Linked DNA regions of Homo sapiens. The protein of the gene in region 3 purifies or fractionates together with the protein of the main gene of each other region. This does not show direct contact. Each region holds a gene or a part of one and is shown on either strand. Other genes may lie near its edges.

Evidence for each region. Proteins that work in one complex are often made in the same cells at the same time.
Region 1: the proteins of CEP135 (region 3) and BCKDHA purify together in Homo sapiens (co-immunoprecipitation; one large-scale study listed by IntAct). This does not show direct contact.
Region 2: the proteins of CEP135 (region 3) and ZMYM4 purify together in Homo sapiens (co-immunoprecipitation; one large-scale study listed by IntAct). This does not show direct contact.
Region 4: the proteins of CEP135 (region 3) and PIP purify together in Homo sapiens (co-immunoprecipitation; one large-scale study listed by IntAct). This does not show direct contact.

The regions. Positions count from the first base shown.
Region 1 is NC_000019.10:41,411,204-41,416,000, reverse strand, and holds part of BCKDHA (2-oxoisovalerate dehydrogenase subunit alpha, mitochondrial isoform 1 precursor), read right to left. Parts: intron 1,953-4,797; coding exon 1,844-1,952; intron 1-1,843. UniProt on the Homo sapiens protein: Together with BCKDHB forms the heterotetrameric E1 subunit of the mitochondrial branched-chain alpha-ketoacid dehydrogenase (BCKD) complex.
Region 2 is NC_000001.11:35,275,095-35,279,891, forward strand, and holds part of ZMYM4 (zinc finger MYM-type protein 4), read left to right. Parts: intron 1-4,797. UniProt on the Homo sapiens protein: Plays a role in the regulation of cell morphology and cytoskeletal organization.
Region 3 is NC_000004.12:56,030,965-56,035,553, forward strand, and holds the end of CEP135 (centrosomal protein of 135 kDa), read left to right. Parts: intron 1-395; 3' UTR 396-2,397; downstream 2,398-4,589. UniProt on the Homo sapiens protein: Centrosomal microtubule-binding protein involved in centriole biogenesis. Acts as a scaffolding protein during early centriole biogenesis.
Region 4 is NC_000007.14:143,134,963-143,138,840, reverse strand, and holds part of PIP (prolactin-inducible protein precursor), read right to left. Parts: intron 3,648-3,878; coding exon 3,542-3,647; intron 1-3,541.

The DNA.
Region 1 (4,797 bases), on a different chromosome or scaffold from region 3:
CCGTACTCCAGCCTGGGCGACAGAGTGAGACTCCACCTCAAAAAAAAAAAAAAAGGCCAGGCATGGTGGCTCACGCCTGTAATCCCAGCACTTTAGGAGGTGGAGGAGGGCGGATCGCAAGGTCAGGAGATCAAGACCATCCTGGCTAACATGGTGAAACCCGCCTCTACTAAAAATACAAAAAATTAGCCAGGCATGGTGGTGGGCGCCTGTAGTCCCAGCTACTCGGGAGGCTGAAGCAGGAGAATGGCGTGAACCCAGGAGGTGGAGCTTGCAGTGAGCCGAGATCGCGCCACTGCACTCCAGCCTGGGCAACAGAGCGAGATTCCATCTCAAAAAAAAAAAAGGAGAAGAAAAAAAGAACAGCACTCTGGTGTCAAGAGCCCAGGGAGGCACTACCTATCATGATGAACACCACTCTTCTCACTTCACAGACGACAGACAGCGTCACCAAGGTGAGTGGCCTGCCAAGTGAAGTCTAGAGTGGATGTGACTCAACTCCTTACCCTGCACCATGCTGCCTCTGCATGAGTCCCATTTGCAGCTGCCCAGACACTTCTGCTGACCCTCAGTGCTGGACAGTCATTCTTGCAGAGGCGGCCAGCTCTCCCATGTGGAGAGCTCAGCGGCTCCCATGATTCCCATGAGGCTTGCTCGGTCCTGCCTGGTGCCCTCACAAGAGAACCCTTCAGCAAAAACAGGTGCAGTGCTCAGCACAGCTGGCGGGGGCCCAGCTTGCTGCCTGGTGTCTGGAAATCTTTTTCCGCACGGATGACACTAGACCTTAGACAAACACCACAGGGCGTTTGCCCTCCTAGAGCATGTGGGGCCAAGGGCCTGGTCCAGCTGTGAGCAGTAGACAGTCCAGGAGCAGGCTGCAAGCCATGCTGGTCCATGGGGGCTCTGGACAGCCACGTGGTCTGGCCCTGCTGAAGGGCTGTCCCAGGGCGAGTCCCCGATCATGACACCAACCCCTGGCCCTGAGCGCTTACTCTGTGCTGAGGGCACTTTGCCAACTGCCCCAAGACTGCCCTCAACAGCTGTCTTGGGAAGGGCTACCATCCCCCTTACGAATGAGGAAACAGAGGCACAGGGCAGTTAAGCAACTTGCCCCAAGCATCTAAGACAAAGGGTTAAGATATGCCTTCCTGGCCCTATCAGTGCTCGCTGACACTCTGAGGGTAGTCCCCATGCAGGGCCCCACACCAACAAGCTCCCTGGAAGACCCCACTCACTGCTCCCTGGGCTCACTCCTTCGCTCCCAGGCACTCATTCCTGCTCAATGATTTTCTTCATTCCTGGTCTTTGACCCTTCCTTCCTTTCACTCATCTGGGCTTGCCGGGCCCCTCTAATCTTGCACCGCACTCAGGTCTGTCAAGGTTCTTCCACCTGCTCCTGCTCCCCGAAGGATACAGCACCTGAGGAGGGGCCAGGGGATCACTGCACCAGGCAGACAGGGTCTCCTGCACAGGCCACACCCACAGCGAACGTTGACTTCACTGCATCCTCCCAGCGACCCTTGGATGCAGGTACCGTCATAATCCCTCTTCTGGAGATTAGAAAACTGAGGCTCAGAGAAGGGAAGTGACTTGCCCAAAACCTGACAACTGGTAACAAAGGGTTAAGAGCACAGACCCTGAGCCACTACACTTTCTGGCCTTCAGAGTGGGAAGACTGCCCCCTCCAGAGTCCTAACCCTGGCTTGTCTCTTTCTTGCTTGGAAAGCTCTTCTTCCAGCTCCTTAGACCTTCCTGGCACTATGCTGCTCCTGGAAGAACACTCAGAAAAACTAAAGTGTACACTTCAATGGGGACCACAGGGCCAAACCACGGACAGACGTACCTGCCTCCCGGTACTGGCCAAACACCAGGTCCGTGTTGTCCAGGGCGGCGGCACTCCCCACGTGCGTGCCCTCCTCACCATAGTTGGTCATGTAGAAGGAGATCCGGCCCTGGGGGTGTAGAGGGGACCGGGGTCCCACAATTGGTTATGCTGGGCAATGACAGAGAGCCATCCAAATCCTGCCCAGCTTCCAACACCTCCATGAATTCACAGTCCTCCTGAAGGCCAGTCCTGGGCCAGGCCATGCTGGGGTTCCTGCCTTTAAGAAGACGCTGCCAGACTGCTTAGAACTGCCAGAGGGATCGAGTTGCTGTGATAGAAGCCCAAAGGAAGCACCTGTTCCACCACGGAAGGGCATCGGTGAGGACCAGTGCGCAAAGATGGGGTGGGTGGAGGGTTCCAGGCAGAGGGAATGATAGACCATGAGGCCAGAAGGGCTGGGACATACAGTGGTAGGGGTGGGGAAAGATGAGGAGGGAGAGGAGATGGCACCCAGATAACAAAGGGAACGATACATTGATTTTACTCTGAGAATAGTGGTAACCTGCCGACAGTCTTCTCAAGGGAGCAATGTGGTCAGACCTGTGTTTTAGAATTGCTCTCAGGCTGCAGTGAGGTAAATGGATGGAGTCATCAAGGCTGATTGCAGCAAGCCAGGAGAGAGGGGGCAGAGGCCCAGCTTGGTAGCAGAGGGAGGCGGGAGAGGAGCAGGTGGATGTGTCTGAGGAAGCTGAGTCGGCTGTGCTAGGGGGCAGCAGACCCTGTCAGCTGGCCACACCAGTGCCCAGTTCCCTTCTCCCAAATCCCCTAACCTGAGCCTCAAAAAGACACGCACTCAGGTCCCTGGCCTCCCTTGCAGCCAGAGGTGGCCATGGGACACAGTTTTAGCCAGATATTTTGGTGGAAGTCTGCTTTTGCTTTCTGGATAGAAGAGACCACTGCTGCTGGTGCCAGCCCTACCCACTCCCTACTTCTTCCTGCCTTGCAGACAGCCATGAAGCTTGGACATGCAGCAGCCATGCTGTGAACACGAGGCCACAAGCAGAGCACGAAGGTCAACTCACCAACAACAGTGAAGCAGAGAAAGGATGGGGCTGGGTCTCAGAGTGTGCTGCTGAGCAGCTGAGCACTTCCTAAAGATGTATCTACAGACAGGCTAGGCACGGTGGCTCACACCTGTAATCCCGGTACTTTGGGAGGCCAAGGCAGGCGGATCACTTGAGGTCAGGAGTTCCAGACTAGCCTGGCCAATGTGGTGAAACCCCATCTCTACTAAAAATACAAAAATTAGCCGAGTGTGGTGGTGGGCGCCTGTAATCCCAGCTACTTGGGGGGCTAAGGCAGGAGAATCACTTGAACCTGGGAGGCGGAGGTTGCAGTGAGCCGAGATTGCGCCACTGCACTCCAGCCTGGGCGACAGAGGTGGACTCCGTCTCTAAATAAATAAATAAAAATAACATAAAAGAAAAGAAGTAGCTACAGCTGGGTGCAGTGGCTCACACCTATAATCCTACCATTTTGGGAGGCCAAGGCAGGCAGATCACCTGAGGTAGGGAGTTCGAGACCAGACTGACCAACATGGAGAAACCCCATCTCTACTAAAAATACAAAATTAGCCAGGTGTGGTGGCGCATGCCTGTAATCCCAGCTACTCGGGAGGCTGAGGCAGGAGAATCGCTTGAACCAGGGAGGCGGTGAGCCAAGATCGTGCCATTGCACTCCAGCCTGGGCAACAAGAGCAAAACTCCATCTCAAAAGTAAAAAAAAAAAAAAAAAAGAAATATCTACAGACAGAGGGAATGAGAGGGGAGAAAGGGATAGCAAGGGGGAGGGAGGAGACAGGGATGAGATGAGGTTTCTGGTGTGGGCAAGCAGGTGGATGGTGGTGCTCTTCACTGAGAAACGGACTAGGTGAGGCAAAGGAGCACGCCTGGGAGGAAGATGTCGAGGTCAAGTTCAGACAGGATTAGTTTGCTGTGGGACATCCAGGGCGAGAAGCCAAGCAGGGCTCTGACAAGCAGTCTGGCTGGGGCTCTGGGCAGCCCTGGCATACGGATGGACATGAGATCACACAGGGCCATGTGTAAAGCGGAACAAAGGCAGCCTGGCCAGCACCCTGAGGGACACCCCGGGGCCAGAGCTCCTCGCGGCTCGGCGGTGCCCTCCTCCATGTGTTCCCAGGCCTGGCTTTCCCGTTGCTGTGGGGGAAACTGATGAATGTGTGCTTTCTTCTAAGTGGGGAGCCAATTAAAAGTTAATGCACATTCCAGTGCCAAGTGAGTGGGCGGTGCTGAGTACTGAGGGCCTGGCAGGACTGTCCAGGTTAGCGTGGGTAAGAGCCTGCAACCAGCCCCCTGAGGATCAGGACTCGGGGCTACTGGCAGAGGCTCCTGGTTGCCTTCCCAGTATACTATTCCCCTCCTCTGTTAACAGAGGTCTCAATCTCCCGCAGGCAGCAACTGCCGGGACTAAAGTATTATTAATACATTTCTCAGTCTCCCCTGCAGCTAGGAGTGGCCCAGGAAATGTATGCAGATGTCACTAGGTGGGACTACCCAGAAAGCTCTATAAAGGTGGGGGTGTGGGATAGCTGGGATGTGCCATGTCTGGCCTTCCGCCTTCCCTCTACTTCCTGCCTGGAAGACCCCCTGGATCTAGCTGTGCCCCAAAACAGGACCCTCTGGATGTATGGTCATTGGAGTCAATAACTTCCCTCTTTGTTGACACTGGCTTGACTGGATCCTTGTCCCTGATACTAGGATTTATCAGGGGATCACAGCCCATTTCACATGGGCCTAGGGCGGTCCCCTGGAGCACTCCAGGAAGCACTGGGGACCCACCCTGTTTCTCAGGACTGTGCATTTCCAAGAGGAAGGGCTGTCAGGCCTTCTCCCTGCCCTCTCCCCACACAGGCGAGCCCCCAGCCAGGCACACAGTAGGTGTTTTTTAGTGAT
Region 2 (4,797 bases), on a different chromosome or scaffold from region 3:
GAAATACATTTTTGTTTGAGATCATCTTAAAATATGTATTCACAGCTCACATTTATTTTTTAGAAAATATACACTAAATATTTTGAAGCTGTGATTTACTTTAAAGATTATGTTTGTACTTTTTTTGACAATGGAAAGATTTTCTTTTTTCTTTTCTTTTTTTTTGAGACAGAGTCTTGCTCTGTCGCCTAGGCTGGAGTACAGTGGTGCCATCTCAGCTCACTACAACCTCCACCTCCTGGGTTCAAGCAATTCTCCTGCCTCAGTCCCCCGAGTAGCTAGGATTACAGGCGTGCACCACAATGCCCAGCTAATTTTTAGACAGGGTTTCACCATGTTGGCCAGGCTGGTCTTGAACTCCTGACCTCATGATCTGCCCGCCTCAGCCTCCCAAAGTGCTGGGATTACAGGCGTGAGCCACTGTGCCTTGCCAGAAAGGTTTTCTTACTAAAGAATATGTAAGTAGATAAATATAAAATTTCAGTTTCTATGGATACTTAAGAGGTATTTTTGAATTCTGTATTAGGAGAACAGCCACTATTTAAAGAAAAGTGATATTTCCCTTAAAAATTCTGATTATTTTACTATGAGCTAACTGTATGTACTTACTTTAGCAAAGGAGAAAGGCAAGTATTGTATAAATGTACTGTATTCAACCCAACAAAATTGCTAATACTTGACCATTTGACTTAAAAAAAAATGACACTTTTATGTGGCTTAGCCATTAGCAGGAGCATGGGTTTTTCAAAGTCAGTTTATGGTATAATCTCTGGAATTTAGCAATTTTGGGGTAGTAATAGTTCTTATCCAACCTTCTCATACCTATACCCACTTTCTTGTACTTAGGAAATATTTATATTGTTATTTTAATTTCATTCATATCATCTTTCTGGCCTCCTAGAAGCTTTAATTAGCTGCCTTTGACCAAAGATAGTCCTTTTTTTTGTTTTGTTTTGGTCTATCCAGCGTATAGAACCCAGCACTGTCAGTTCTTTGAGAACCCAGCACATATCAAGAATCATATGTGTTTTTCTTTCTTTACACTTCCCAATATGTCTTACAAATGTATTTTAATACTGACATGCATATTATACATTTATAAGCCAAAAATTAATCTACTATTCCTGTCTCATCTAACTACTCATTTCTGTCCCTCCCTCCCTCCCTCCTTCCCTCCCTCCCTCCCTTCTTTCTTCCCTCCTTTCCTTTCCTTCCTCCTTCCTTCCTTTTTTTCCATAGTTGAAATAATTTCAAAGAAATAACACACATCACATCATTTAATCTATAAATACTTCCGTGTGTATTTCTAACAGATAAGAATTTTTAACAAGCACAACCACAATACTGTTACGACCTAACAAAAGAGTTCCTTAATCCAGTCTGTGTTCAGACTTCTCTTATTCTTTAAGTGTCTTTTTACACTGATTTGTTTAAATCATCCAACTAAGAGTTACACATTTCATTTAGTTTATATGTTTCTTAAGTTTTTCTTAACCTTAATCACCTCCCCCCACCTTTTTTTTTCTTTTTGAAATGGAGTTTTGCCCTTGTTGCCCAGGCTGGAGTGCAGTGGCGTGATCTTGGCTCACTGCATCGTCCGTCTCCTGGGTTCAAGCGATTTTCCTGCTTCAGCCTCCCGAGTAGCTGGGATTATAGGCATGCACCACCAGCCTTGGCTTATTTTGTGTTTTTAGTAGCGACAGGGTTTTGCCATGTTGGCCAAGCTGGTCTCAAGCTCCTGATTTCAAGTGATCCACCCGCCTCCGCCTCCCAAAGTGCTGGGATTATAGGCATGAGCCACTGCACCCAGCCAATAATCCCCTTTCTTAACTCATACCCCCTGTGCTCCTTTCCCATGCTATTTATTTGTTGAAAAAAATAGGTTATTGTTCCAGGATAATTTTCCACATTTTGGATTTGGCTGATTGAATCCTTGTTATGGTATTTAACATGTTCCTTTACCCCTCATATTTCCCACAAATTAGTAGTTAAATACAGAGCAGTGGTTCTGAACTTTGGCTAAAACTTTAGAATTATCTGGAGAGCTTTTAGTTATCCTGATCCCTAGGCCACATCTCCGATAAATTAATCAGAGCCCATGAGGTAAAATGTCATCATCAATATTTTAAAAAATTTACCAAGTGATTTCAGTCTGTAGCCAAGATTGAGAGCCCTAGTTGGTAGAGCTTGATGAGTTTAGGTTCAGTTTCTTTGGCAAGAAATATTTATAAAGAGTGGTTATATAATTTATTTGCAATCAGACAATTTTGAGAATGAAAGGGGGTGCTATAATGATTACACAGAAGGAATAGTTTAAACTGGAATTGTTCTAGACAAATTAGGATTTATAGTCATTCCATTAGATGGGGCTGTGAATTCTTGTTGGATCGTTCTAGGAGGTAACTTAAGTGGTGGTTCTACTTTTAGTGATACTAAATGGATCATTTGGTTTAGGTTCTGTCAGTGGGATCCAAATGTAATTTATTTTTAACTTTTCACTTAATGATAATTCTTGCCTATATCCATTATTTCATTAGAAGAGTGATTTTTTTTGGTCATTTCTTTTGTATTTATTAACTGGAATTCTTTCATAAAGAATTCCCTCATCAATTATTTGGTTACCTTGTAATACGGTTTGTAAAGAAAAAGCAGGATAAATGCTTATTTTTTTCCCCTTTATCAGTAATTTTCAGAAAAATGAATTGATGCCCGCCCTCACAACTCCCAAAGGTGAGGTTTGGGAGGGAGTATCATTAGGAACTCATGAGTTTTACCATATGTGATACATTCTAATTTATCATAGTCATTATTTTTGGTGTTCAATTTGTTGTATCTTTGATGATTGGCGGTCTCTTAAATTAGTTTCCTAAGGCTGCCAAAAAACTGCTACATACTTGGTAGCTTAAAACATCAGAAATTATCTCACAGTTTTGGAGGCTAGAAGTCCAAAATCAAGGCTCTAGGGAAGAATCTTTGCTTGTCTCTTCTATCTTCTTGTGGCTTGGTTGGTATTCCTTGACTTGTGGCGGCAAAACTCCTGTCTTTGCCTTCATCTTCCCTTGGTCTTCTTTCTGCATCTTCTTTTCTGTCTCTTAGGGTCTACCTTATTCCTGGATGTTCTCAGCTCAAGATCCTTACCATAATTACCTCTCCAAAGATCTAGTCTGCTCACATACTGTGGTTCTGGGTGGACATAACTTTTGGGAGCCACAGTTTAATACACTACAGTTCTTTTTTTGACCCCTAAAACTTCATTTACATCCCATATGCAAAATAAATTCACCTCATCCCAACATCCTCAAAAGTCTCGACCTATTACAGCATGAACTCTGTTTTTTTTTTTTTTTTTTAGATGGAATTTCACTCTCTCGCCCAGGCTGGAGTGTAGTGGCAGAATCTTGGCTCACTGCAACCTCTGCCTCCTGGGTTCAAGCCATTTTCCTGCCTCAGTCTCCCAAGTAGCTGGGACTACAGGAGCGTGCCGCCATGCCTGGCTAATTTTTTGTATTTTTAGTGGAGACGGGGTTTCACTATGTTAGGATGGGCTCCATCTCCTGACCTCGTGATCTGCCCGCCTCGGCCTCCCAAAGTGCTGGGATTACAGGCATGAGCCACCATGCCCAGCTACAGCATGAACTCTTAAGTCCAAAATCTCCAAATATTATAACCTCAAAAAGTTTGAAATCTCATTGTCTTAAATCATCTAAATTAGGTAAGAGTATGGACTCGGCATGATTCATTTGGGATAAAATTCTCCATCTGTGGACCTGTGAAACTGGAAAACAACTTATCTGCTTCCAAAATACAATGATGAGAGGATGAGACAGCTGTTAAGATAGACATTCCCATTCAAAAGGAAGAAAATGGAAAGAATAAAGGATCTCCGGTTTCAAGCAAGTTCAAAACTCAGCAGGACAAATTTCTCTAGGTTTCAGGGCCTGAGAATAATCCTCTGTGGCTTGATCCTCTGCCCTCTGGGCCCATGGAGGCTCTGTCTGCAGCTGGTGTGGGCCTGTTTCTCCCCTACCCCCAACCCCCACTATGCTGCTCGCCTTCAGTCATTTTTACTTTTCCCTGAAGGGTTGCACATGTTTGTAGTTGAGTAACTGTATTAGCCCATTTCTTGCCTATAAAATCCCAGAAGTAAGACACTTTAAAAAATTTTGTCCCATCTCTGTTCCTTTCAGTACAGGCTGACAGCATTTTTGTTGGTATGATATTCTTTAAAACCTTGTCAGTCTCCTTACATATCAAGGGGGTCCATATCATTAGACGAGAGGATTCTTCACAGTTCCTTACTGATAACCCCATCTCCATTCCTCGTTTCTGTTGAGATGATTGATGGGATCCATGAGTCACACTGCTAGTATCTTCAGCATATGGTTGTCCAGCCACGTGGCCTGCTCTCTAGAACACACTTTTCTAACAGTGAATTTCCTAATTTCCGCATCCTTTGTATTCTGAATAATCTGAGAACCTCCCAGTTAATCGTTGTTTCCTTTTGCTTAAAGTTCCTTCTTCAATTTATCTCTTTCTTCTTGTATTTTACTATAAATATCAAGGAGGAACCAAGCTGTACCTTCAGCACTTTGCTTGGAAATCTCCTAGGCTAAATATTCAAGTTCATGGCTTCCAGATTCTCCTTTCTATCCCACAGTAGAACATAGTTCAGCCACTTTATAACATAGCTCACCTTTCTTCCAGTTCCCAGTCACATATTCTTTATTTACTTCTGAGACAGCAACAGAAGCATCCTTAACCAAAATATTGATATGAACCAAAATGTTCACAATTCTG
Region 3 (4,589 bases):
AGACCTCATCTATACTAAATACCAAAAAAAATGAGCCAGGCATGGTGATGTGCACCTGCCTGGAGGCTGAGGCAGAAGGATCACTTGAGTATGGGAGATCAAGACTGCAGTGAGCTATGATCACGCCACTGCACTCCAGCCTGGGCAACACGGCAAGACCCTATCTCTAAATAAATAAATAAATAAATAAATAAAATAAAGTACAATGAATAAAACAGTACTTGAACTTTCAGAAGTAGAACAGTACTTCTTAAATATAACTGGATGTGGGGCACAGAGTTTTATTAGATTCTATAATTTCATTTATAACATTATTGAATTTCAGTTTTTTATGAATATGTTGAATAACTTTATCATTTTTCTCTTAACCCACCTTTCAATTTCCTCCCTTTCAGAATAATGGCTTTCAATGAGTTCCTATGTGGATTTTTAAAAGAACAGAACAGTAATGAAATATTTGAAGTACTTGTTGCTGAAAATCATGAACATGGACACAAATTCTACCTCTGTCAACTTTTATTTAAATCAGTGAATATGTTAAAAAGTTTGGTTTAAAAGAACTATATCTATATGTATATTTTCATATATATGACAGAACAAGAATATGTATTAATAGTGCCTAATGTATCTATATTTTTATTATTCATGAATTAAATTACTAAAAGTATGTTTATACTGTGAATTAATATAATGTATTCACATTATTCTTTAATAATCTGTTTATTAATAAGCCATGATATGTGTATGTAAATATTCTTACAGTACTTGTTTTTAGTTGTCATGCCTATGTTTAGACCATATCTTAATGTATTCACAAAGAATTATCAACTTTGATGCTATGCTGTCATGCTTAACTTTTTCTTCTTAAAATTATTCATAGATCTACTGTCTGTTGTCAAGGGGAATATATTCAGGTCTAGTCTTCTTATAATAGCAGAGGTCTTGGTAAAATAACTACCATATATAACGTGTTATTGCCATCTAGAAGAACTATGATGAGAAAGATACATTTATATATTATGTAAAATGTTAACTATCATCATATGGACTCTATGTAACACAAATTCAAAAGCAAACTAAAAGCTATATGCAGAGTTTTGTATAAAACAATAGAACAGAAATTTGGGACATTTTTCTAGGAAATAAAATTCCTCGGTGTATTAATCTAAGGTTTCAAAGTATAAAAGTATATGGGGTAGGCCGGGTGCAGTGGCTCACGCCTGTAATCCCAGCACTTTGGGAGGCCGAGGCGAGTGGATTTCCTAAGGTCAGGAGTTTGAGACCAGCCTGAGCAATGTGGTGAAACCCCATCTCTACTAAAAATACAAAAATTATCTGGGCTTGGTGGCGGGCACCTGTAATCCCAGCCACTTGGGAGGCTGAGGCAGGAGAATTGCTTGAACCCGGGAGGTGGAGGCTGCGGTGAGCCAAGATCATGCCATTGCACTCCAGCCTGGGTGACAGAGTAACACTCTGTCTCAGAAAAAAAAAAAAAGAAAAATATATGGGGTAAATACAGTAAAACGTTTTGTTAAATTCCAATATACATTCAGTGATACCACTCTTTTTCTTCTAAGCCTGTGTGTTATAATTTACCAGTTCCCCAAAATGCCATTTTTAACGCCGAACTGTGTAATATACATGGAAAACAGCTTTTTACAATTAATTTTCAAAGTTGTAATTTTAAAGAATTTGGGTGTATACCTATGTTAATGAAACAACAGAAGTACAAAAAAGAATATCAGATACAAAAATCAATCGTGAAGAAAATCTGTTCTTAATATATTTCATTATGATTGAAAAACATAAAAACTAACATAGGAAAGTGAATGATCAGTTACTTATGATATATTTTGTTTCCTCTTGTGGTTTAATAAAGTGAAGTGTGTGTGTGTGTGTGTGTGTGTATACCTGGGGGTGGGCAGTGCTCTTTTTCTAAAACTAATATGGCTTATATATCTGAATTATGCCCTTTTTAGTGTGTATTAGGATGTGGGCTGGTTTGCTTTTCTACCACCTTTGTAATTTTATGTATCCCATCTCCTTTGTGTGAATTCATATATTATAGCAAAATACAAGAGACATGGGACTGTTTGCAATACCATATGGAAATCTTTTAATAAATATATGTAAATAAAATAAAAAATATTTGTCTCCACCTTTTCCCCAAAAGCAACAGCAAGACATATTTTGTTAGATATTTTATTTTTAATGTTTTCTATAATTTAAAAATGTATAGCCTGCCAAATGTTGTTTTCATAACCATGATATTGTTTTGAAAAAATTTTATCTTAAAATACTGAATGTTCTGACCTTTTATAGATGTTTTTGATTTTGTTTTAAATAATTTTAAATTATGGAGCTTGACCTAGATTTGCCAATAAACTTTCTAGCCTATTTATTTTCTCTTTCTTACAAATAAGGTTTTTATAATTTTATATTAGGGATACTCTTAATTCTAAAATTAAGTAAAGTTTATTCAAATCAAACTTTATCATGGTGGGATATGGACAAATCCCTGAACATAGGTGCCAGGCACCTTTCTTAACTGACTTTTATTTCCATTTAGTTCAAAATAATAAGAAATGAAGCCAAAGTTTATTTTTGTTATCTGTCCACAAAATGGTTAAACGTGTGTGCGTATGAATATACGCTCTTCTCACTTGCAAATGCTCTTTGTTGAGCACATTGACTCCCATTAGACTATGACACCTGTTGCCGTACCTTATTGTAATTCATCATACAAGTGATCTCATACTTCTCTCCCTAATTCTTAGAAGACTTTAGCAAGTGGCTTACTATCTTTCTACCATTAGTTCTATTATCAGCCTTTTTATATCAGTATCTTCTTGGGCCAATGGTTATTGACTATACCTGCACATTGTAGTTATCTGGAGAATTTTAATGAATAACTGATGTCTGAACCCCTACACCAGACCAAATATATCAGAAATTCTGCAATTGAAGTATGGTCTTTTAAAAATTTTTAAACTTAAAATTGACATATAATGTACATATTTATGAGGTACGTAGTGATGTTTCAATACATATATTGTGATCTAATCATTGTAATTAGCATATCCATCATCTCATTTATCATTTTGTGTTGAGAACATTCAGTATCCTCTTCCTAGACATTTGAAGCCATATATTAACTATAGTCACCCTGCAGTGGTAGAGAATACTAGGAACTTCTTCTTCCTATCTAGCTATAATTTTGTATCCTTTAGCAAATGTCTCCCTATTGCTCCCTTTCCCCTATCCTTCCCAGCCTCTAGTATCCTCTATTCTACTTTTTACTTCTGTGAGATCTTTTTTTTAGCTTATACATACGAGTGAGAACATGCAGTGTTTAACTTTCTGTTTCTCACTTATTTCACTTAATTAACAATGTCCTCCAGTTCCTTCCATGTGACTGAGAATGACATGATGGTGGTTTTGTTTGTTTGTGTGTTTTTAAGGTCCCCTACAAGACTGTTATGTTCAGCAGGGTTAATAATGTTAATTTAAGAGGCTGATCCATCAAATTGATTTCATGACCCACTAATGGGACTTAACATATAGTTTTGAAGAACACTGCTTTAGATCTTGTCGTCACCTCCACAGTCCCAATTTCTAGCATCCTACTCACCCCTCTTTCTAGGTTACTGTTTTGATTATGAATATACCAACAATTCTTTGACTCCACTAGGTTCTTCAGACAATTGATTCTATCATCTATCACTTATCTATAATTTCATCACCCTCACTTTCTTTTTTTTAATGTTTGTTTATTTATTTAGAGATGGGGTGTCACTCTGTTGCCAGGCTGGAGTGCAGTGGCATGATCTCGGCTCACCGCAGCCTCCATCTCCTGGGTTCAAGCGATTCTTCTGCCCCAGCCTCCCGAGTAGCTGGGACTACAGATGCGCACCACCACACCCAGCTAATTTTTGTATTTTTAGTAGAGATGGGGTTTCACCATGTTGGCCAGGATGGTATCAATCTCTTGACCTCATGATCCACCCGCCTCGGCCTCCCAAAGTGCTGGGATTACAGGTGTGAGCCACCACTCCCAGCCCATCACCCTCACTTTCTTTAGCATAGACATCATTGTCCTTGCACATCCCCTAAATTCTTATCCTTCTGATCTGAAAAACATCCAGCTGCTTGCATCTATACCTACTGACTCTTTTTACTTTAAATTTATGGCCCTGAAAATCAAAGGCCCGCAGCACTGTGTGACAATCCTTATACACTGTTCTGATCAATTCACACTTAACCTCTCCCCAACAAGTATTCTCCTCTTTATTCAGACCTTCTATGCTTCTCTCACTTTGTTTCTTTTTTTTCTATGAGACAAGGGAAACAATAGAAAAGAAATTTCTCACTCTCCAAATCTATCAACGTGTTCTCTATCCAACTAATTTTCTTTCTTCCTATTAGGACATGAACCATCTCTACCCTTTAGCCATTCTGTCTAGTTGTGATCAGTAGCCATCTCTTCTACTGGAAAGACTTCTGTCAGGTATGGTGGCTCAGCCTATAATTCCAGCACTTTGGGAGGCTGAGGCAGGAGGATCACTTGAGCCCAGGAGTTCGAGACCAGC
Region 4 (3,878 bases), on a different chromosome or scaffold from region 3:
ATAGGGATGCAAGTGAATCCACAGGGCAAGGAGAGCTCATCCAGGGCAGCTGTCCAGCTGAGGAGCAGGCTTGCCTTAGTCACCAGCCAGAGGTTTCAGGAATCGACCTGCAATCACGTTTACTCTGAGACCTGGTGAGACAGCAGCCTGGCCACTTGCGTGTAGGAGCCAATGTCAGGCCTTGTTGTCAGAGCTGTGACCAAGCCCCATCTGTGCTCCTCTCTGACTTGGTGACCTTTGGTGATGAGAGGCCTCTCACTCTCACTTTCCTCAGGTATGAGGTGGAAACAATTAACTACCAAACCTGGCTGTTAGATAAGCAAATAACATCTTGAATGTAAATTTCTTTTTAACTTGAGTGCTTTGCAATTCAAGATCCCAGATTATTGTATATATAAATTTCAGTGGAGTCAGAGGATTTTGTCCAGTTAACGTTTAACACAGCAGTTTTATCCTGGGGTCCATAGACCCAGAGGGATCTGTGGATAGCATTCAGTGAGTCTGTGGACTCAGGCAGGGGAAAAATATGCATCTTTATTACTAACCTCTAATTGAAATTCAGCATTCCTTCTGTTATGAATGTCATCAAGGAACCACAGTGCCATTAGCAGTATGTGTGATTTTATCACAAGGAGAAAAGTAGATATGTACATATCATTGCACGGATCCAGAGGTCCGAAATACAGCCTGAATGTACTACCTTGAATGTATGGCAGTTATCAGACTGGCTCATGGTCACGACTGAGGCCCAGTGCCATTCTGCCCACCTCCTGCAGCTTGCTCAGCTACCTGGCAACTCAGCATCAAGTAGCCGTTCAGACCTAAACAGTAAATTCAGGTGTTCTCACCCTTGGAGTTTTACTCAGAATGCCTTGGAGAATCCTGGCGTTTCTTTGGAGAAGACTACCTGTGCCTTGTTTCCCTTTTTTTTTTTTTTCTAAGAGACAGAGTCTCACTCTGTTGCCCAGGCTGGAGTGCAATGGTGCGAACGTGGCTCACTGCAACCTCCGCCTCCCAGGTTCAAGTGATTCTTCTGCCTCAGCCTCCTGAGTAGCTGGGATTACAGGTGCGTGCTACCAGCCCTGGCTAATTTTTGTATTTTTAGTAGAGACAGGGTTTCACCATGTTGGCCAAGCTGGTCTCGAACTCCTGACCTCAGGTGATCTGCCCACTTTGGCCTCCCAAAGTGCTGGGATTACAGGCACAAGCCACTGTGCCCGGCCTTGTTTACCTTTCTGTTACATTAGCAACAACATATCGTCATGAATCAGAATTTACACCACTTGTACAATAAAAGATCAGAATCCGTTGCATGCCTAGCATGGCACGTGGGACGTGTTGCCAAAGACCAGTGCAGTTTAATGTACTTCTTCAAGCTAAGTAACAACATCCATCACACAGATAATGTGTTCATAGAATAAAATTCAACTCTTCTATATTTTAAATGTATTGCTTTCCCAGCTAATGTGTGCATAAAGAAACACATACCTTACTGCATCACAAATTTATTTTTTACAAGTTAGTCACTGTTACTCAATGTGGTAGTTTCTCTCTGTAATCCAATGCACTTTATACATTTAGAAGCAATTTTCTGATAAATGTTTCATAAACTTCATGAAACCAACGAAATGGCCTGTAGCACAAAAATGTTTAAGCATTGTTTTTGCCACAAGTTTCCTTCAGCTTTAAAGGATTATGCAATCTTTATATTCAAATATACGATTGTAGGTATATTCTATTCTAATTCTAAAATAAATAAATATGAGTCTAAACCTCACTTTTTCAAAAATTCAGTTACAGAAAACATTATAAATGATAAAAAATGAGGATTAGATGGTAAGAATTTTATAGTTATATAAATATATTTTAATAAAAATTTAAAAATAGTTATACTTTGAAAAATGAAGCCACAAATAAAAATTTGTTGACTAGAATTAACAAAATTTCCTTTCCTGTAAATTATTTCTAGTTTGCAAAGTCAGTTAGTCTAAAGATTTCTTATTCTTTTAGTTGTGCTTAGGTGGGTTTTGAAAAGATTGCTTTATTTTAGAGTACTAGCATGATTCTTAAAAGCATACTTTTATTAATCACAAAAGCACAAAATTATGTCACATGTAATTTTATTGATTCAAACATATCTTATTATACCTACCACTACCATTAACTATTACCACCAGAAACCACCATTTTCACAAAAATTTTATGTACACATTATGTACATGTTCTTATTCTCATTCTCACCTGTGTTTGTGATAAACAAAATACAGAGTTGAAAAATTATGATTCAGCCTTGCTCCTACCCCAAATTAGTGTACATGTCTCAGATTCTTGGACTGAAAATAGAAAAATTTGACAAAGCAGCTGTGATATTCTTTGCTCATTGACCAGGAATTTTTCTTTACAGGTGTGGGGATATTTCTAGAATGCAGTTGACTGAATAGCAATCTTCATGTTCTCAATGTTGTTTTACATGTAATCATTGTCCTTAAGTCTCATTTGAATTAGGAAACTTATGTTGTAAGGAAATACTTGTGCTGCCTGATAGAAGGTGTCCTTCATGAAGGGTCTGGGGAGGGAGTAGGGGAGATGGGAGATGCATGGGTCTTGGCCCTAGAACAAAGGTAGTGGGGGCAGTTTGCATGCTTGTGACATCTGAGATCAATGACTAGGAAAAGGACACACAACCAGTGTCCCAGGGAAGAGTCACTGTGGATTAATAACTGCATAAGTCTATTTGACTTCTGGCCCTTGGCAGCTAGACAGGAGGGATAATGCTCTAATCCCAAGCTGCTCAAAAATGTGATCCTTTGGGCACAGCCTTGGTGTACCTTGGGCGTCTGTTAAAATCCAGAAGTTCTAATCTCTCCCCAGACCTGCTGAATGAAACTCTGAATTTTAACAAGATCCCCGAGTGAGTTTTAGACACATTACCATTTGAAAACCTCTGACCTTGTTCAGAGATTGGACTTCTGAACGTGGGGAAAAGGAGGAGATGATTACGAGCTCCTTGTCAGGGTGGGGAGGCTGGAACAAGAGTCCACTTCTGGTGACCCAGAGCAAAGGAGCAGAAGAAGGCAAGAGGACAGTAGAGTCGCTCAGTGCTTACTGGAGAGGAGGAGTCATATCCTGCATGTCCTCTTCTGCCCACCCACCTCAACCTATGGTGTGGAGTTGCTGCTTTCTCTTCTGAGAACTCCCCTCCCTCCATCCTAAACTAAACATGCTCAGGACCTTGGAAGGACTCTAACTGCTTCTCTACTAGCTCTTACACTTTTTTCTTTTTCCCTCTTTCTCACTTCCTATTCCTTCTTCCTTTCCTTCTTATTTATCCTAGACTTCTCTGGATTCGAACTTCTTCATCTGGAAAATGAGAAGTCATCTGTCCCAAGCTCCCACAGTTGTTCTGAGTCTCAAGTAGCATAACATAAGTGAGAATGTTTCATTAAGTACACTGTACATTATTAAAGTGAGAGATTAAATTATGTTTATAATCAAGGAGTTGAATTATCTTTTGAAGTCACGCCCCCAGTCCTCTACTTACCACCATGCATTCTTTCAATTCTGTTTGAACTGCAAGCACTGCAGTGACTTCGTCATTTGGACGTACTGACTTGGGAATGTCAAAATTCTTTATTATGATCTTCCGACTGATTGTGGGAAGAGAGAATCAGAACACCAGGATCAGAGACCAATCTTTGAGTGAGGGGGGAGCCATGAACAGGGCAAGGGGCACAGGATGGGCAAGGGAGGGAAATTATGGGGCTTGGATCAATTGTTCAGCATTGGAATCCCCTGGAATTTTCATGTGTTGATTGGATTGGTAACTTCACACAGATTTAATTTTGTTTAATAAAACAACTAGGACACTTTAAGATTCC